Regions from separate parts of the Homo sapiens genome. Here region 1 is linked to region 2. Evidence: fine-mapped expression QTL. Tissue or cell type: lymphoblastoid cells. Region 2 holds a variant in brackets; the other region holds the start of a gene. All regions are shown on one strand. Distances are from middle to middle.

Region 1 (8,446 bases), 43 kb after region 2:
TGGGTGGTTCTAGCAGGAGCTCCGGGATATCTTCAGCTCGCAGGACAACAGAGAGTTTTCCGCCTGAAACCAACCAGAGACACGAACAGCAGGTGAGCGAGGGCAGGAGGCTCTGACTGTGGAAACCACTGGGGGATTCATTTCCTATGGACCTGAAGAAATCATCCAAATGACTTTACTCTAGCTGAAAGATTTTAGAAGACAAGGTGGCTTAAAAAAATAATGTTCCTTTAGAGAGTGTTTTGTGAAAATCAGGACTATGAAATGCAGAGCAGTTGGAGAGTTGGCAAGGAGAGAACTCCTTCCTAAACTTCTTTTTTTTTTTTTTTTTTTTTTTGAGACGGAGTCTCGCTCCGTCGCCCAGGCTGGAGTGCAGTCGTGCCATCTCGGCTCACTGAAAGCTCCGCCTCCCGCGTTCACGCCATTCTCCTGCCTCAGCCTCCCGAGTAGCTGGGACTACAGGGGCCCGCCACCACGCCCGGCTAATTTTTTGCATTTTTGGTAGAGACGGAGTTGCACCGGGTTAGCCAGGATGGTCTCGATCTCCTGACCTCATGATCTGCCCGCCTTGGCCTCCCAAAGTGTTGGGATTACAGGCGTGAGCCACCGCGCCCGGCCATCTTAACTATTTTTAAGTGCACAGTTCAGTATTATTAAGTATATTCACATTGTTGTGCAACCAATCTCCAGAACTTTTTCATTTTTCTGAACAGAAATTCTACTCCCATTAAAGAGCTCTCCATTTCTCCCCTACCCCAGCCCCTGGCCTCTGCCATTCTCCTTCCTCTCTCCATGAATTCGACTGCTCTAGTTTCCTCCTATACATGGAATCATACAGCGTTTGTCTTTTTGTGTCTGGCTTATTTCACATAGCATAATGTCCTCAAGGTTCATCCATGTTGTAGCATGTGATGATTTCTTCCCTTTTTAATAAATGTGGAGTAATATTCCATTTTATGTCTATGCCACGTCTCGTTTATCCATTCATCCATCAGTGGATATCTGGGTTGCTTCCACCTTTTGGCTATTGTGAATAAGGCAGCTATGATGTCCTAGTTTATTTTTCATTTATTTTTGAGACAGAGTCTCGCTCTGTCGCCCAGGCTGGAGTGCAATGGCGCAGTCTCGGCTCACTGCAACCTCCGCCTCCCAGGTTCAAGCGATTCTCCTGCCTCAGCCTCCTGAGTAGCTGGGACTACAGACACGTGCTACCACGCCTCGCTAATTTTTTGTATTTTTAGTAGAGATGGGGTTTCACCGTGTTAGCCAGGATGGTCTCGATCTTCTGACCTTGTGACCCGCCTGCCTCAGCCTCCCAAAGTGCTGGGATTACAAGCGTGAACCACCACGCCTGGCCTTATTTTATTTTTTTGTTTAAGGCCGGGCGTGGTGGCTCACGCCTGTAATCCCAGCATTTTGGGAGTCCGAGGCGGGCGGATCACCTGAGATCAGAAGTTTGAGTCCAGCCTGGCCAACACGGTGAAACCCCATCTCTACTAAAAATACAAAAATTAGCCAGATGTGGTGGTGCGTGCCTGTAATCCCAGCTACTGGGAAGGCTGAGGCAGGAGAATTGCTTGAACTCGGGAGGCAGAGGTTGCAGTGAGCCGAGATCACACCACTGCACTCCAGCCTGGACAAAAGAGTGAGACTCCATCTCAAAAAAAAAAAAAAAAAAAAAAAGAAGAAGAAAAAAATGTTTAACGTCTCTATAATCAAATACATGCAAATTAACAAGACATGAAAATAAGCTGTTTTCAGCTGTCAAATTAGTAATAAAATATAGCATTTGAAACTGACAGAATGGGGTCAGAGAGTAATTTTATAACTGTTCGTATAAATGATTACAACTTTTCTGGAAAATAATTTAGTACCATGCTTTAAAATCTTAAAGAATGCAGATCTTTTCACCTAGTAGTTTCAATTCTAAGATTCTGTCAGAAAGAATTTATCAGAAGGTGGGAAATAGTTTATAGATAGGAATGTCATTGCAACATAACTTGTAACTAGTGAAAATTAGAATAAACATACAAAAATAAGGAAAATACCTTAAACTTTATGCTCCATTTATACAATGGGAACCTAAAAGACCATTGAAAGTTATGCTTTCAAGTTTTTCTTTTGTTTTAAGCAATACTATTCCAGCACTGGAGTAAATTATTATATTATTTTAGAGATAGTGGCTCTCTATGTTGCCCAGGCTGGTCTCCAACTCCTGGCCTCAAGCAATCCCCCTGCCTTGGCCTCCTAACGTGCTGGGATTATAGGCATGAGCCACCATGCCTGGCTCAAGTTTTTAATAAAATGAGAATATAGTCATAAACTATGTTAAAATGAAAAAGTAGAACATAGAAGTATATATATATATATATATATATATATATATATATATATATATATATATCAGGTACTATATATACAAATATGTATGTATATGGTATATAATAAAAACAAGAAAGCATATATAATCCAAAATTGATTCTCAAAATTGGTGTACCTAACATACACTTAGGGAATTGATTATAATCACAAATGTCCTGGTTCAGCCTAGGCCTACAGATCAGAACTTCAAGTCCCCTAGGAGGCAGGAATGTGAACAGTTACAGTTGTGCTCTCCTCATCCTGTGATATATAATTGTTTCATCTTGTATTTGTCTGTCTCCCAAGCTGCAATGTAAGCTCCAACTAAGACATGTAAGTATAGGGGAGCCGAGGGGGAAGGACAGGAAACCACGAAACTTTGCCTCCAAGTCAGGGTAGCAGGACATAGACGGAAAGGAAGACAGAAAGACAATCAGTGCTTGCACAACTCAAGACTGGGCAAGGGGTATTTCAAAAATACATGTGTGTATATATATATATATATATATATATATATATATATATATGTATACATATTTTTTTTTTTTGAGATTGTGTCTTGCTCTGTCGCACAGGCTGTAGTACAGTGGCATGATTTCGGCTCACTGCAACATCTGCCTCCTGGGTTCAAGCAATTCTCCTGCCTAAGCCTCCCGAGTAGCTGGGATCACAGGCGCCTGCTACCATCCCTGGCTAATTTTGGTATTTTTAGTAGAGACGGGGTTTTGCCATATTGGCCAGGCTGGTCTCGAACTCCTGACTTCAAGTGATCCGCCCACCTCGGCCTCCCAAAGTGCTAGGATTACAGGCGTGAGCCTCAAAGATATTTTTCAAAGGAAATGCTGAGTGTTTTGCCATGTTAGCTACCCCTTCCTATCGCCAGTGGGAAATCAATTTACAATATTAATTTCTCCCTATGCACAGACATAAGAGGACTGCTGAAGGTGAGTTGGGAGAAATGTCGAATCTGCTCTAAGGAGGATGGGGAAGGTGTGTGATGAAGGTTGCCGAGGGGTCACCATCAGGTCAATGTGTACTCACCCTGAAAAGCATAGCTTTCGTGGTAAATCTCATAGGCTTTTCTGTGGGCATCACTGAGGGTCTGGAGTTGTGACGCTCTTGATTCCTGGTGGGGAAGCTCCTTGATCACTTCCTCCAAGTCACTGAAGGTGAACCAGATCCCAACTAGGTCCCCGAAGGAGTGGAAGGCGAATGTGGCATAGTCGGCGAAGAGGTCAGCAAAGGCTTCGGTTCTCCGGAGGGTGCTGGCAGGGAGGGTCTGGTGGTGCAGGATGACCATGGGCTGAAGCCGTGCAGTCTTGAGGGCCTTGAGGAGTCGCCGGTAGCACTGCACTGTTTTCTCGTCTGGATTCTGGGTGCTTCCTGCTGGGAGGAGCTGTGCCCATGACAGAAATACCTTATAATGGGTGATCTGACTGGCATGGAGACTGCTGAAGTATTCTGGCAGGAAAGTGGGCAGTGGCTGGTGACAAACATACATGTCTTTGTCCCCTGCTACAAAGTTAGAACTCTGGTCTCCCAGGAGACCACTCAGGTTGTGCAGCAAGTCATTGGTTAGAGGACCAGCGGTGGAAATGAAATTTCTATCAGACTCCCAGTCTGACCCCCAGCATGAAAAACTTAGCAGGGCAATAAAGACTACATGCCAAGACAGCTCCATTTTCTAGGAACTGTTAGGAGGTATGTGGAACCCTTACTTTATAACTGCAACTGAGGTTGTAAAATACTAAGTGATAATTAAGACTTAATATTTAACTGGGTTATCTATGATCACAAAATCAGTACACGGTTCACTAATGCAATATTTAAAAATGTAAAGATCAGGGCCGGGCGTGGTGGCTCACACCTGTAATTCCAGCACTTTGGGAGGCCGAGGTGGGCGGATCACGAGGTCAGGAGATCGAGACCGTCCTAGCTAACATGGTGAAACCCCATCTCTACTAAAAATACAAAAAATTAGCCAGGCATCGTGGCATGCGCCTGTAGTCCCGGCTACTCAGGAGGCTGAGGCAGGAGAATCACTTGAACCCAGGAGGCGGAGGTTGCAGGAGCCAAGATCATGCCACTGCACTCCAGCCTGGGCAACAGAATGAGACTCCATCTTAAAAAAAAAAAAAAAAAAAAAAGGTAAAGACCAACACAAAAACCTCAGACTTCCTATACAAGTTAAGCAGAGGAACCCGGAAAATGTCTGAAGAAAACGATTACCAATTTTTTTTGTTTTTTTTGTTTTTTGGTGACCGGGTCTCACTCTGTTGCCCAGGTGGGAGTGCAGTGGTGCGATCACAGCTTCCTGCAGCCTTGACTTCCTGGGCTCAAGTGATCCTCCCATCTCAGCATCCTGGGTAGGTGGGACCATAGGTGTGCGCCACCACGACTGGCTAATTTTTTGTATTTTTAGTAGAGATGGAGTTTTGCCATGTCACCCAGGCTGGTCTTGAACTCCTGGGCTCAAGCAATCCTCTTGCCTCAGCCTCCTAAAGTGTTGGGATTACAGGTGTGAGCCAGCGCACCCAGCCACACATTATTTTAAAATTTGTTTACATAATACAAAAATAAGTATTTTGCCCCAAATTTTCTCTTTAAAAATATGCTGAACATATTTTGTAAGAGATTCAAACAATATGGAAACATCTATGAAAAACTTGCAAATTCCTTCACCCTCCCCCCTCCTCTTCCTATAATAAGTATCTTCAGCAATATGTATCTTTCCAGTTTTCTTTCTCTGCATATCTTAATGGTTATACAGGAGTCAGAATGCCTGGGTTTAAATCTCACCTGACAAAAATTACTTAACTTTGTGCCTCTATTTTGTCACCTGTAGAATGTGGATAATTCATCATAGGCTGTGGGGATTAAATGGGTCTTTCTTGTAGCATGTATACAACAGTACAGCTCAGGGATCATTATTATTACGTAAATACAAATGGAAACGTGTATAACATTTAAAATATAGAACAATTTAACATATATGGAATTATGCCATATGTATTTTCAGCCTTTTCTTCACTTAATAGCTCTTAGAGTTCTGCCTGTATCAGAACATATAGACCCACCTCTAACAGATGCATAGCTTTCCACAGCAAGAATGTACCATAAATTAACATCTTGCATATTAAACACCGGTTGGTTTTACATTTTTGTGTTGCAAACAATGCTGCAAATGAATATCCTTATATACAGGCTGGGCATGGTCAATCACGCCTGTTTTGCCAGTACTTTTGGAGGCTCAGACTGTAGGACTGCTCAAGCCCAGGAGCTTGAGGCCAGTCTGGGCAACACAGGGAGATCATCTCAAAAAAAAAAATGGTTTTTGATTGATTGAAATGCAAATTGTCTTCCAAGTTAAATCCTACATAGAGTTAGATGTGTGCCTGTATCCGTCTGCCTTGCTAATGCCTATTATAAAACTTTTACATTTTTGATACTTTGACGTAAATATTATGTGCTTTTCTTTTTCTGATTATTTAAGAGGTGAAGCTCTTCTTGTTAATTGGGCATTTTTCTTCTGAGTTTTATCTTATTACTGATATAAAAATTCTTAATGGGAGTTTGGATATCACATATTAAAACGTGATAGAAAAATTTTCCCATCTTTTAATTTGGTTTATAGTGTCTGTTTTTTTTTAATAGACTCCCATGACTTTCCATAGACTGTAGAGGGTGAAGCCTGGGAATCTTTTTTTGTTGTTGTTGTTGCCGCCCAAGCTGGAGGGCAGTGGCATGATCTCAGCTCACTGCAACTTCCACCTCTTGGGTTCAAGCAATTCTCCTGCCTCAACCTCCTGAGTAGCTGGGATTACAGGTGCCCACCACCATGCCTGGCTAATTTTTGTACTTTTAGTAGAGACAGGTTTTCTCCACGTTGGCCAGGCTTGTCTCGAACTCCTGACCTCAGGTGATCTACTCACCTTGGCCTCCCAAAGTGCTGGGATTACAGGCGTGAGCCACCGTGCCTAGCCTTTTTTTTTCTTAAGTGAAAGCAAGGCTATTAGGAAAGTAAAGGAATAAAAAATGGTTACTACGTCAGCAGAGCAGCCTAGTCTTTAAAGATACATTACCTGATACCAGTCTTCTTATAAAAATCCCATGACAAATCTACTTGAGTATTCACTCTTGTTTTTAATGTTTGCCATTTATTTTTAAAATACTTAATTGTACATACTTGTGGAGTACATTTTGACAAGGTTTCATACAAGTTGATTCCAGGGAAAGAGATAATTATTGGGAGAAACATATTTAAATCATTGTTTTAACCTATATTAATCTGTCTTGCTTTCTACTAATAGATTTCTGGCTGCTCAAATTCACATTGCACTGGAAAGCTCAGACATCAAGGCAAGTTGAGTACTCATGGGTATTAGACTGTCCCACGTGGGCCTTAGCCTCAGACAGTTATTTTGCTTTTGTGACCTTTAACATACTTTGTGATTTAATGAATGCCATCTGTTGTTAAAAGCTGCAACACAGGAACTGCTCCACCTCATGAACATACTGATCATAGCTAAGTCTCAGGAACTGTTAGTATCATAAACGGTAATAACTTTTCCTGGAAGACCATAAAATTTGGGGATTGCTTGTAATATAGCAAATGACCTATTTCCCCTAAAAAAGCAATTTGAAAACAATCCTGAGAAATTACCCTTAGGACACAGAAGTAAAATAAATTACTAAAGAGTAATTTTAAAAAAGTATAATAAACTTTTATAAACTTAAAAAAAAAAAAAAACAACTGGAATTAACCTTGGAAAGTCATCTCTAAGGCCTCTAGCTTTCATATGAGTTCTCTAATGACTCCTTCTCATAGAAACCTCATCCATAATACCACAGTTCTACCTCTTCACTCCAGGTTAAGCAAAAAGGGAAAGTCTCACATTCAGAAGTAGATGGAAGTAATAATCAGGGTACAGTAGAAAGAAATCCAATAGACAACTTCAGAACAAGTTATTTTATTTTGATGAATAAAAGCAGTAGCTGGCAATTGAAAAAAAGTTATTTGCTCAATAGGACAGCACATACCTTAAAAGTAATGGGCCTTTTCTTACACATGAAAACAAAGGTATTGGTTATAGAGACTACACATTATTTGGTTCCAACTTCACTGGGACAGGAAACACACCAAAGGAAGTGCTGAAGCCTGTGTTGGTATGAAACCTGTGATGAATGTGACACATAGGACCATCAACTCAATTCTTGTTTCTGAAAACAAATCCTGGAAGCATCACTTCCAGAAACACTTCTGTCCCTAGCAGAGCTCCAGCCAGGCTCCAGGCCACGAGGTGCTGTGCCACAGTTCCTCAGCTCTGGTCAGTTACTTTCACTATCTCAATCTTCGAGCAAGTAGTTAGGGTTAACTACCAAGTAGGGATCTTCTTCATAGCTCTCACTTCCCTCTGTGGAGCCTTTCAATCCAGCCTGGGTGAGCTCAATTAGAACATGATCCTGTGAAACACAAATATTTGTCCTCAGGTTTCAAGCAGTATTATACCAATGTCCAGATATACAAGACTTGACCCTTCTTCCGAGTGTTTGCTATCAACATTTTCTTTCATTTCCCAACTAGAAACTCCTAGGAAAAGGACCACACTTTAAAAATCACTATCAGTGCTCTGCTAAACCCTGTTCCTAGTAGGATGCTGACCTTTTCATACCATAAACCCCTTGTGGAAAATTAAGAAATACTTAAATATATTACATCAAATGCTTGTAAATACAACTTCAAAAAAGGAAGTAATGCTTGAATTTTAAGGTTAAACAACTCTGCAAAATCTTCTAATTAATTGGAAGTCTGTTTCATACTTAATATCATTCAGCAATTTTTAATTATGACCACTGAACTTTTTCATATACCACCATTTCATAGAGTTAGGAGAAGAATCTATGAAAATTCATCTGAAAAATTTTTCACTCTGAGCTAATAAAAAAAAAGGTAGAACATGCCATCTGGCTTAAAATCTTGATGACAGATTTTAAGCCCACGATATAATTACAGGTTAGTCAAAACTGTCCACAAATGAGAAGAGCTCCTAGCCAAGCCCATAGAAAGGAACTCAGGAAACTGTGA
Region 2 (8,446 bases):
TAATTTCCCTGGGTCACCTACACTTCTATCCATGATCTTGGTCAGTGCCTTAGAATGTTAATGCTTCTCCCTGTAGAAAATAGCCCTTAGATAGAATATATTTCAGCTGGGTAGGATTTTTCTAATCATTTCCTTTGCTGGTGCATTGCTTGCTCTTTTACTCAGCATTTGTTCCATTCTCTTATCCTCATGGTCCCATCTCAAGTTGTTAGGGCTGAGCCAAGAGCCTCAAACTTTTGCTCGGAGACTAAGAGACCCTACAGGCAACCACACAGCCTACTCCTCCTGGGCCCTACCCAGACCATTCTCAGGAGGGCACTGCTGTTCCGACATCAGGGAGGATCAAGGGGAGCAAGTGACTCAGGCCAGGAACTAGGGTTTGGTGGCATCAGGCCACTGGGCTTGCTTGCTGAGCTTAGACATAGGAAGGAAAAAAACTCAGAGTGCGGCCCTAAAGCAAAGCTTAACCCCCACAGGAGCAAGAAGGCTTATCGTTCTCTTCTTACTGTGGCCCAAGGACGCTGTATCACACTCCTGCAAATAGCAGATGTTTCCAACAGGGGAAGGTGCACGCTGGGGAAGGGCGGGCCCGTCGTACCTTTGAGGGCCTCATTGATGTAAGTCCGAAGGTAGTAGATCCTTGCAGTGTCATTGAGGTCTGTTTCTTCCCGCTGGGACACTCCATTCTCTGTGACATAAATTGGAGGGTCATTGTATTCCTCCTTTAACCAGTTCAGGATCCTCCTGAAGCCAAAAGGCGTCATCTTCAGCCAGAAGGAGCCAGAGTCTGGCCACGAGCGATCTGCGATGGAAGCAACTCCTCTACAAGTTCAAAAACTAAAGATGAGGTCTTGTTTTGTAAATCTCAAGAGGCCCTTTACACGAAACACAAAACAGGACTTAGACCAGGAAAAGCCTTAGGTTTTGTCTAGCCTTAAGAATCATACTAAACCCAGAAGAATCAAATTGCCTCAAATTCTCCTCCTTTCGCTGGTTCTAGCTGCCTGCACTCTGTGCTTGTATAGCATTGGACAAGCCACTCAGCTCTCCGTCCTTCAATTTCTCTGCCTGTGCAGAGAATGGTCTTGCTCATGGAGCCCAGCCCTCCACTACTCTGAATAGATGGCTCCTTACACCAGCTATGAAAGGCTATGGGTCCCCAGCTCCAGGCTTCCAATGGACGCCAGTGCTGTGTCTTCAGAGAATGGGCTCCCCCAAGTCACCCATGTCTAGTCAATGCCACTTGCAGACCACGGGTGAGGCCACAGGCACGAATATTTGTAGGGGCCCTGCTTTGTGTGAAGACAGGCAGCAGACAGGCTGGCACCTCCTTCAAGTGTCCAAGAGCCTGGCCTCTCTCTTCAGTGATGGACGAGGAGGTGGACAGCTCCTGCCACAGGGGTGCCTGCTGGGGGAGGCCACAGAAGCCTGATCACCTGTAGTCACATATGTCAAATAAGAACCAAGAATTTAGACACTTCCTACACTCAGATCTTTCAGGGAAAAAAAAAATGTTGGTTTTATCAGCACCTGGATTTATCTGACTCAGCTGAATTGAATGTGGGCCATTTCATAAGCACTAGTGGAGGTCTTCCCAGGGACAGCCCCAGGGCTCATAAGAGGGAGGGAGAATCAGAAGGAGTAGAGGGGTGTTCTGGAGTCTCCTCAGCCCCCTTGGTGAGCCTGACTCTGGGGGTTTCAGGATACAGTGGGAGTGGAGGGGCTGGTTTTCAAAGAAAGAACCTGGACACAGTCAGAGCTACTGGTGTGGAAAGATGCTTGATGGAAAAGGAACAAAATGAGATTTTCTGAAAATGGCAGATAAGAGACAGGACTTAGGTACAGCTCCCACTTGGATGGACAGAACAGTGTGTGGAGACTCACATTGTTAACTGTTGCTCCAAGAACTACTGCTGGAACATACCAGAAAAACCAAAAGAATTCACAGACCTTTGAAAGAAGCAGAATGCTACTGCAAACTCCATGAGACAGCTGCAAAACTGTGAGTTCCCAAAGTGTGAGAAGGGGAAAGTCTGCCTCTGAACACACATCCTCTCTGGGGACCTGAACATCCAGATCATAGGAGAAGGATTTAACCTTACCTAGAGCGCAAGTGGATTTAGGGAGCCAAGTGAAATGTAAAAGTAGAAGAAGCAGTGGGAAGAGCCCTGTAGCCACTCCCTGTCCCCAGCTTGAGCCCAGGGAAGCCATTCCTGACTTTATCCTACAGGGGTCCTTGTAGAAGGAAGCCAGTGGAATTAGGGAGGGGCAGGATTAAGGAAGCTTCTAGCTCAACTTATTAATTTCAACTAGAAGCATGAATTTTCCTGAGCAGAATCTTGGGGGCAAACAAGAAGTGCAGATAAAAGCACAGAAGCCACAGCCAACAGTGTGGGCAGGTGGGGAGGGGCAAGGCCTGAAAGCCCTGTTTGCTTTCTCAGAGAGAAGGCTTGTGGCCTGGGGTGAGATCTCTGCCCTGCGCACTGTTGGCAGGGCACAGCAGGAGTGAGACTGGCCTTGCTGGCTGCATGGGAGCTAGGTGAGGCTTGTGACTGCCAGCTTTCCCAACTTCCCTAGCAACCTGTATGACACAGCAGAGGAAGCCATAATACCCCTGGGAACAGAACTCCACTGGCCTGAGAACCAGCCCCCTATTCCCCCACAGTGGCCACAGCAAGCCTCACCCGAGGAGAGTCTGAGCTCAGATATGCCTAATGCTGCCCCAACCTGATGGTCTTTCTCTACCTTTGCTGGTAGCTGAAGACAAAAGACATAAACTCTTGGGAGCTCTATGGCCCCGCCCATAACCTGAGAAACCCAAATACCCTGGCCAACGTAGGGCAACCTTGTAATCCCCCTTCTACTACCGCAGCTGGTGGCAGTGGAAGGGGAAAGCACCTCAAAAGTGCCACCTCCTCTCTTGAAAGTGCCACCTCCTGGCTGGAGACCAACCAACTCACGCCATTATAGCAACTCATAACAGAAGAACCCTGCTCCAAAGAAAGAGAAAACAACAACTAATTCCACTGCCTGCAACATCCTGGCTAACCAGAGGTCCTGAGTCTGTCCACATGACAACTTCACTGCTCGCATAACCAGCGTTTGAGAAAACCAGTGCACGAAAGAAAACTACAACCAAGGACCCTCACAGAATCCACTTAAGTCCCCTGCCACCTGCACTGGAGCAGGTGCTGGTATCCATGGCTGGGAGACCTGAAGACAGATCACATCACAGGACTCTTTGCAGACATTCCTCAGCACCAGTTCAGATCCCAGTAATTCTGCTGGGTGGATAGACCCAGAAGGGCAATGGCAATCACTGCAGTCTGGCTCTCAGGAAGCCCCATCCTTAGGGAAAGGGGGTGAGCACCACATCAAGGGATCACCCTGTGGGACAAAAGGATCTGAGGGGCAGCCCTTGAGTTCTAGATCTTTCCACTGAAACAGTCTACCTGAATGAGAAGGAACCAGAAATGTTAATTCTGGTAATATGACAAAACAAGGTTCTATAAGACCCCCAAAAGGTCGCACTAACTCTCCAGCTATGGATCCAAACCAAGAAGAAATCTCTGAATTGCCAGATAAAGAATTCAGAAGGTTGATTATTAAACTACTCAAGGAGGTACTAGAGAAAGGTGAAAATTAACTTAGAGAAATTTAAAAAACAATACAGGATATGGATGAAAAAGTCTCTAGATAAATAGATATCATAAAGAAAAAGACAATCGGCTGGGCGCAGTGGCTCACACCTGTAATCCCAGCACTTTGGGAGGCCAAGGCAAGGGGATCATCTGAGGTCAGGAGATAGAGACCAGCCTGACCAACATGGAGAAACCCTGTCTCTACTAAAAACACAAAATTAGCCGAGACCATTCTGGCCAACATGATGAAACCCCGTCTCTGCTAAAATACAAAAAAAAAAAAAAAAAAATTAGCCAGGCGTGGAGGTACGCGCCTGTAATCCCAGCTACTTGGAGGCTGAGGCAGGGGAATCACTGGAACCCGGGTGGTGGAGGTTGCAGTGAGCCAAGATTGTGCCACTGCACTCCAGCCTGGTGACAGAGCGAGACTCTGTCTCAAAAAAAATAAATAAAATAAAAACTGTTACTTAAAAGGTGAACCAAAATCTTTTACTATCTCTACTTCATAAAAGCATTGTTTAAAAAGAGAAAATAAAATTTTACTCTTGTATTATTGTAATATTTATTAATATTAAAGCGAATTTTGATAAAACCTAAACAATTTTTTTCTTGAAAATCCTTTTTAACAACCAAGCATTTTTAGAGTTAAGCAGCCTGTGAAAAAGAACGCAAAATAAATAAATTTTAAAAATGAAATAAAAAAACAAAAAGCCAAGCACATGTGCCCTAATGGGAGGTGCCCTGGAGACCCCGGCCTTCTCTCCCTCTTGCTTGCTGGAGATTTCCTTGGGATCTGTGGGGTGGCGAGCATCTTGCAAACCCCGGCACATTCGGCGTTGGAGGCCCTGTTTTGAGGCTGGGCAGGCCTCAGAGAGCACAGCCAAGGGCACCTTTCTGCCTTTTCCAGAGATGGCTCCGGGCTCCCTGTTGGTGGACTTACCTGTCTGCATCAAAAGAAGAGATGGCAGTGGCATAGTTGAGGTTGTAGGCGAGGACAGTGGTGTAGTGATTGAACCCAAAAAAGTCATAGGTGCCGTTGATCCTCCTCTTCTCACTCTCTGTAAATTCTGGCAGCCTGGGTGGAAGAAGCCATTGAGGGC[A/G]GGGCTTCAGGGAGAGCCATGCTTTGAGAAGAGAACGTCATAGGGCTGGGGCGGGGGAGCTCTCCGAACCCCAGGCACTTGGCAGTGAGTAGGGGAAACTGGCAGGGAAGGAGAAGAGGTCCTTCAGGCGGTGCAGGAAGCACTGCGGCTCCTCCAGCCAGACCATAAACCTGGCTTCCCTAGGTCTCTACAAGAGCCTCTGAAACCTGAAGGACCACACACACACGCACCCACGCGCGCGCGCGCACACACACACACACACACACACATGCATAAACAGTTTTTAATTTCCTTCAAACAACATATGCAAATTCTGATATTTAGCATCTATGACAGATTTCAAAATCAAGAGCATGCCTGAGGTACATATCTGAGACTCTTCCCCTATGTTTGTAAAGTTAGATCTTGTATAATTTTTTTTTTTTGTGGCTGAGTCTGGCTCTGTCACCTAGGCTGGAGTGCAGTGGCGCGATCTCAGCTCACTGCAACCTCCGCCTCCTGGGTTCAAGTGATTCTCCTGCCTCAGCCTCCCAAGTAGCTGGGACTACAAGCGCCTGCCACAACTCCTGGCTGATTTTTTATATTTTTGGTAGAGATGGGGTTTCACCATGTTGGCCAGGCTGGTCTTGAACTCCTGACCTCAAGTGATCCGCCCACCTCAGCCTCCTAAAGTGTTGGGATTACAGGCATGAGCCACCACACCCGGCCCTGTATCTTGTGTAATTTGTATTTCCGTTTTCTGCCCTTTCCAAGTTTCTCTGCTCCTCTTGGGGTTTGTTTAGGCATGCCTCTTTTCTCCAACTCTAATAATAATAATAATAATAATAATAATAATAATAGCTTCAAGATCTTCAAAGTAGCAGGGGAAATAATTTGCAAATTGAGTATTTGAGTTTGAATTTCTCAGTTCTCACGATTTCACTGAACTTTGTTTTCTTTCTTCCTTTTTTTTTTCCCAGACAGGGTCTCGCCCTGTCCTCCTGAGGACACTGCACGCCCCCTGAGGCTGGAGTGCAGTGGTGCAATCATAGCTCACTGCAACCTCAGTCTCCTGGGCTCAAGCAATCCTCTCACCTCAGCCTCCCAAGTAGTTGGGAATATAGGTGTGCGTCACCATGCCTAGATAATTTTTAAATTTTTTGTAAAGACAAAGTCTCACTATATTGCCCAGGCTGGTCTTGAACTCCTGGTCTCAAGCAATCCTCCTGCCTCAGCCTCCCAAAGTGCTGAGATTACTTGTGAGCCTGGGAACTTTGGCTTCTTAACCTGTAGATGGAGCATTTTCCAGGCACTCTGAGTGAAAAGCCTCTCCTGTAGAACCTGACTAATACACTTGTGTGCAGCATGTACAGGTGATCCTGAATGCATGCGCATGCCCACAGGGAGACCTGGGGCTTCTGGTTTAGGTGTGGCCCAGAGATGCCCTGCTGAGGCCTCTGACACTTTCATCTTGACCTTTCTGCTACCATTAACCTGAGGGATCAAGAACCTTCCTTCCCTGGGGTTTCTGAGATGATGGGAGAAAACCAAAGCACAGCCTCCTCCTGTCCCTGACGCTTCTGCTCAGAAGCCAGCAATGGCCTGTGGCACCAAAGCCAAGGCCCTGTGCTTGGCTTCCAGGCCCTCCACCATGTGGCCTCAGCCCCTTCACTGCTGCTGGGCTGGTCTCCCCACTCTCAGCTCTGGCACCCCCACTCATTCTTACCTCTAGGCCTGTCTTCACAACTCTGCCCCGTGGAAAGAATGACCTGCAATCCCCCACATTCTATCCCCTGTCAAGGCCCAGCTCAGCTGATGTCCTGCCTTGTCCATGAAATCTCCTGGGTCTACCCAGCCTACCCTGATCTCATCTTCTGAGTTTTCTTTGTACTGAAGAGCCTGGGGAATGGGATGGAGAACTGTCTTTCCAGCTGATCTGTCAGCAGCTTGAGGAGCCGAATGGAATCCTCTCCTTCCATGGACCCCTCCCCCTGGCCCTGGCTCGGGCAAATGGTAGGTGCTCGGCAAAGTTGTGCAGATGGGCCGGGCGCTCATCGGTTTTGCTGGAGATCACAGTTCGCAGATCAGACCTTTAGGCACAGCCTGCTCTGGGGAACTTACCCTAACTAGGCCAGGGTGTGCATTGTGAGGTGGGAGCTGGATTTTTTTTTTTTTTTTTTTTTTGAGACAAAGAGTCTTGCTCCATCGTCCAGGCTGGAGTGCAGTGGCATGATCTCGGCTCACTGCAACCTCTGCCTCCCGAGCTCAAGCAATTCTCTGGCCTCAGCCTCCCAAGTAGCTGGGATTACAGGCCCCCGCCACCGCACCCAGCTAATTTTTGTATTTTTAGTAGAGACAGGGTTTCGCCATGTTGGCCAGCCTGGTCTTGAACTCATGACTTCAAGTGATCCGCCCACCTTGGCCTCCCAAAGTGCTGGGATTACAGGTGTGAGCCACCGCACCCGGCCTGGGAGCTGGATTTTTAATCCTCAGCTGGACTATATGGGGGCGTCTAGGGGCAGGACTCAAAGACTATGTTGGGAATTCACACTTGATTCCCGCCAGCCTTGGAGCGGTGGGCATGTTCCCGTGGGCAGTGACTGCCGCTTCCTGCGCTTCCTCACACCACACCTCTCACCCCACCTGCATGATTCTCAAGCCCCCAGCATGCGCCCTGGGGGCCGACAGCTTGGCTGCAAATCTCAGCTCTATCTCTTAATAGCTGGGTGATCTTGCCCTAATCTTTGCGCCTCACTTTACTCGTATTTAAATAGAAATAAAGATACCAACAGAAGATGGGTAAACGTTGGCTGCTAATGTTGCTACTCCTTCCTTGACAAGAAGGGGCGGGCGGGTAAGGAAGGACGCTTTGGTGCAGACCATCGCCACCTGCTGGCCAAGTGATGCAAAGCACACGCCTGACTGTCAGCCACTGCCACCCACATTCACACGTGCGGTGATGAAATAGGATAGGATGAGCTGGGATTTGTCTGTGGAGTGGCATAGTGGGGTTGCTCAGAGGTGGATAGCCTTGGAACAGATTTCCTGGCTGTTCCACAATATAATAACCATAATAGCAAACCCCTCTGTCAAGCATATAGCAGTGCCAGGTGCTGGGCTAAGCTTTACATATATGATCACATGTAACTTCCCAGCAAGCAAAGAAGCTCAGTCATGGTAACTTGCCCGAGACATGCCTCTGTGACCCCGACGCCCATGCCCTCACCACTGCGGGCACCAGGCCCTTACCGAGACTTGTTGAGGCCTGCAGCCAAGCTCCTGTCACGGATCCGCGTCTTCATCACCTCATTGTAATCTCCATTCTTGAAAATAGGATGTGCAAACCAGCCTCCCATGAACTGCGGGTAGGGTGGGGGAGACAGCCCAGGCGTTACAGGTGGGCACAGCAAGAGACAGCATCGTCCCCGCTCAGAAGTGCCTGGCCTCACAACCTCCCTCCTTTTCCTGGACCCCCAGGTTAAGCTCTCTTCCCTGTGGCTCCTGCCTGTTGCAGCTTCAGTGTCCACAGGTCTCCCAGCTGGGTCTGTGCTTGCTCAGTTGCTGTTGCACTGAGGACAGGGCCACCTCTTCATAGTTGTAGCTTGAGGTGACAGTAACTGACCTGGGCACTGGCCCTGGTGCTCAACAAATGCTTCCTGGCTGCCCTTGGATGGGTCCTGCAGAGGAGAAGGGAGAACCCACAAGCCTCCAGGCTCCCGGTTCTCT

The links. PIP is the estimated chance that this variant, and not a neighbour inherited with it, causes the effect.
Region 1: it holds the start of LCT, and the variant in region 2 is fine-mapped to the expression of LCT in lymphoblastoid cells (GTEx, PIP 0.94).

The regions. Positions count from the first base shown.
Region 1 is chr2:135,833,128-135,841,573 of GRCh38, forward strand. It overlaps LCT (lactase), which reads right to left and starts at 4,057. Exons shown (of 17, transcript NM_002299.4): 1 at 3,403-4,057; 2 at 1-63. The coding sequence starts at 4,042. MCM6 (minichromosome maintenance complex component 6) reads right to left here. Exons shown (of 17, transcript NM_005915.6): 17 at 6,499-7,824. The coding sequence ends at 7,708.
Region 2 is chr2:135,790,060-135,798,505 of GRCh38, forward strand. It overlaps LCT (lactase), which reads right to left. Exons shown (of 17, transcript NM_002299.4): 13 at 7,970-8,079; 14 at 4,582-4,716; 15 at 599-822. Among named protein-coding and RNA genes, the nearest start is that of LCT-AS1, 26 kb to the right of the region's middle. RefSeq lists enhancers at 7,350-7,871, 7,872-8,395. The variant A/G (reference allele first, on the strand shown) is at 4,742.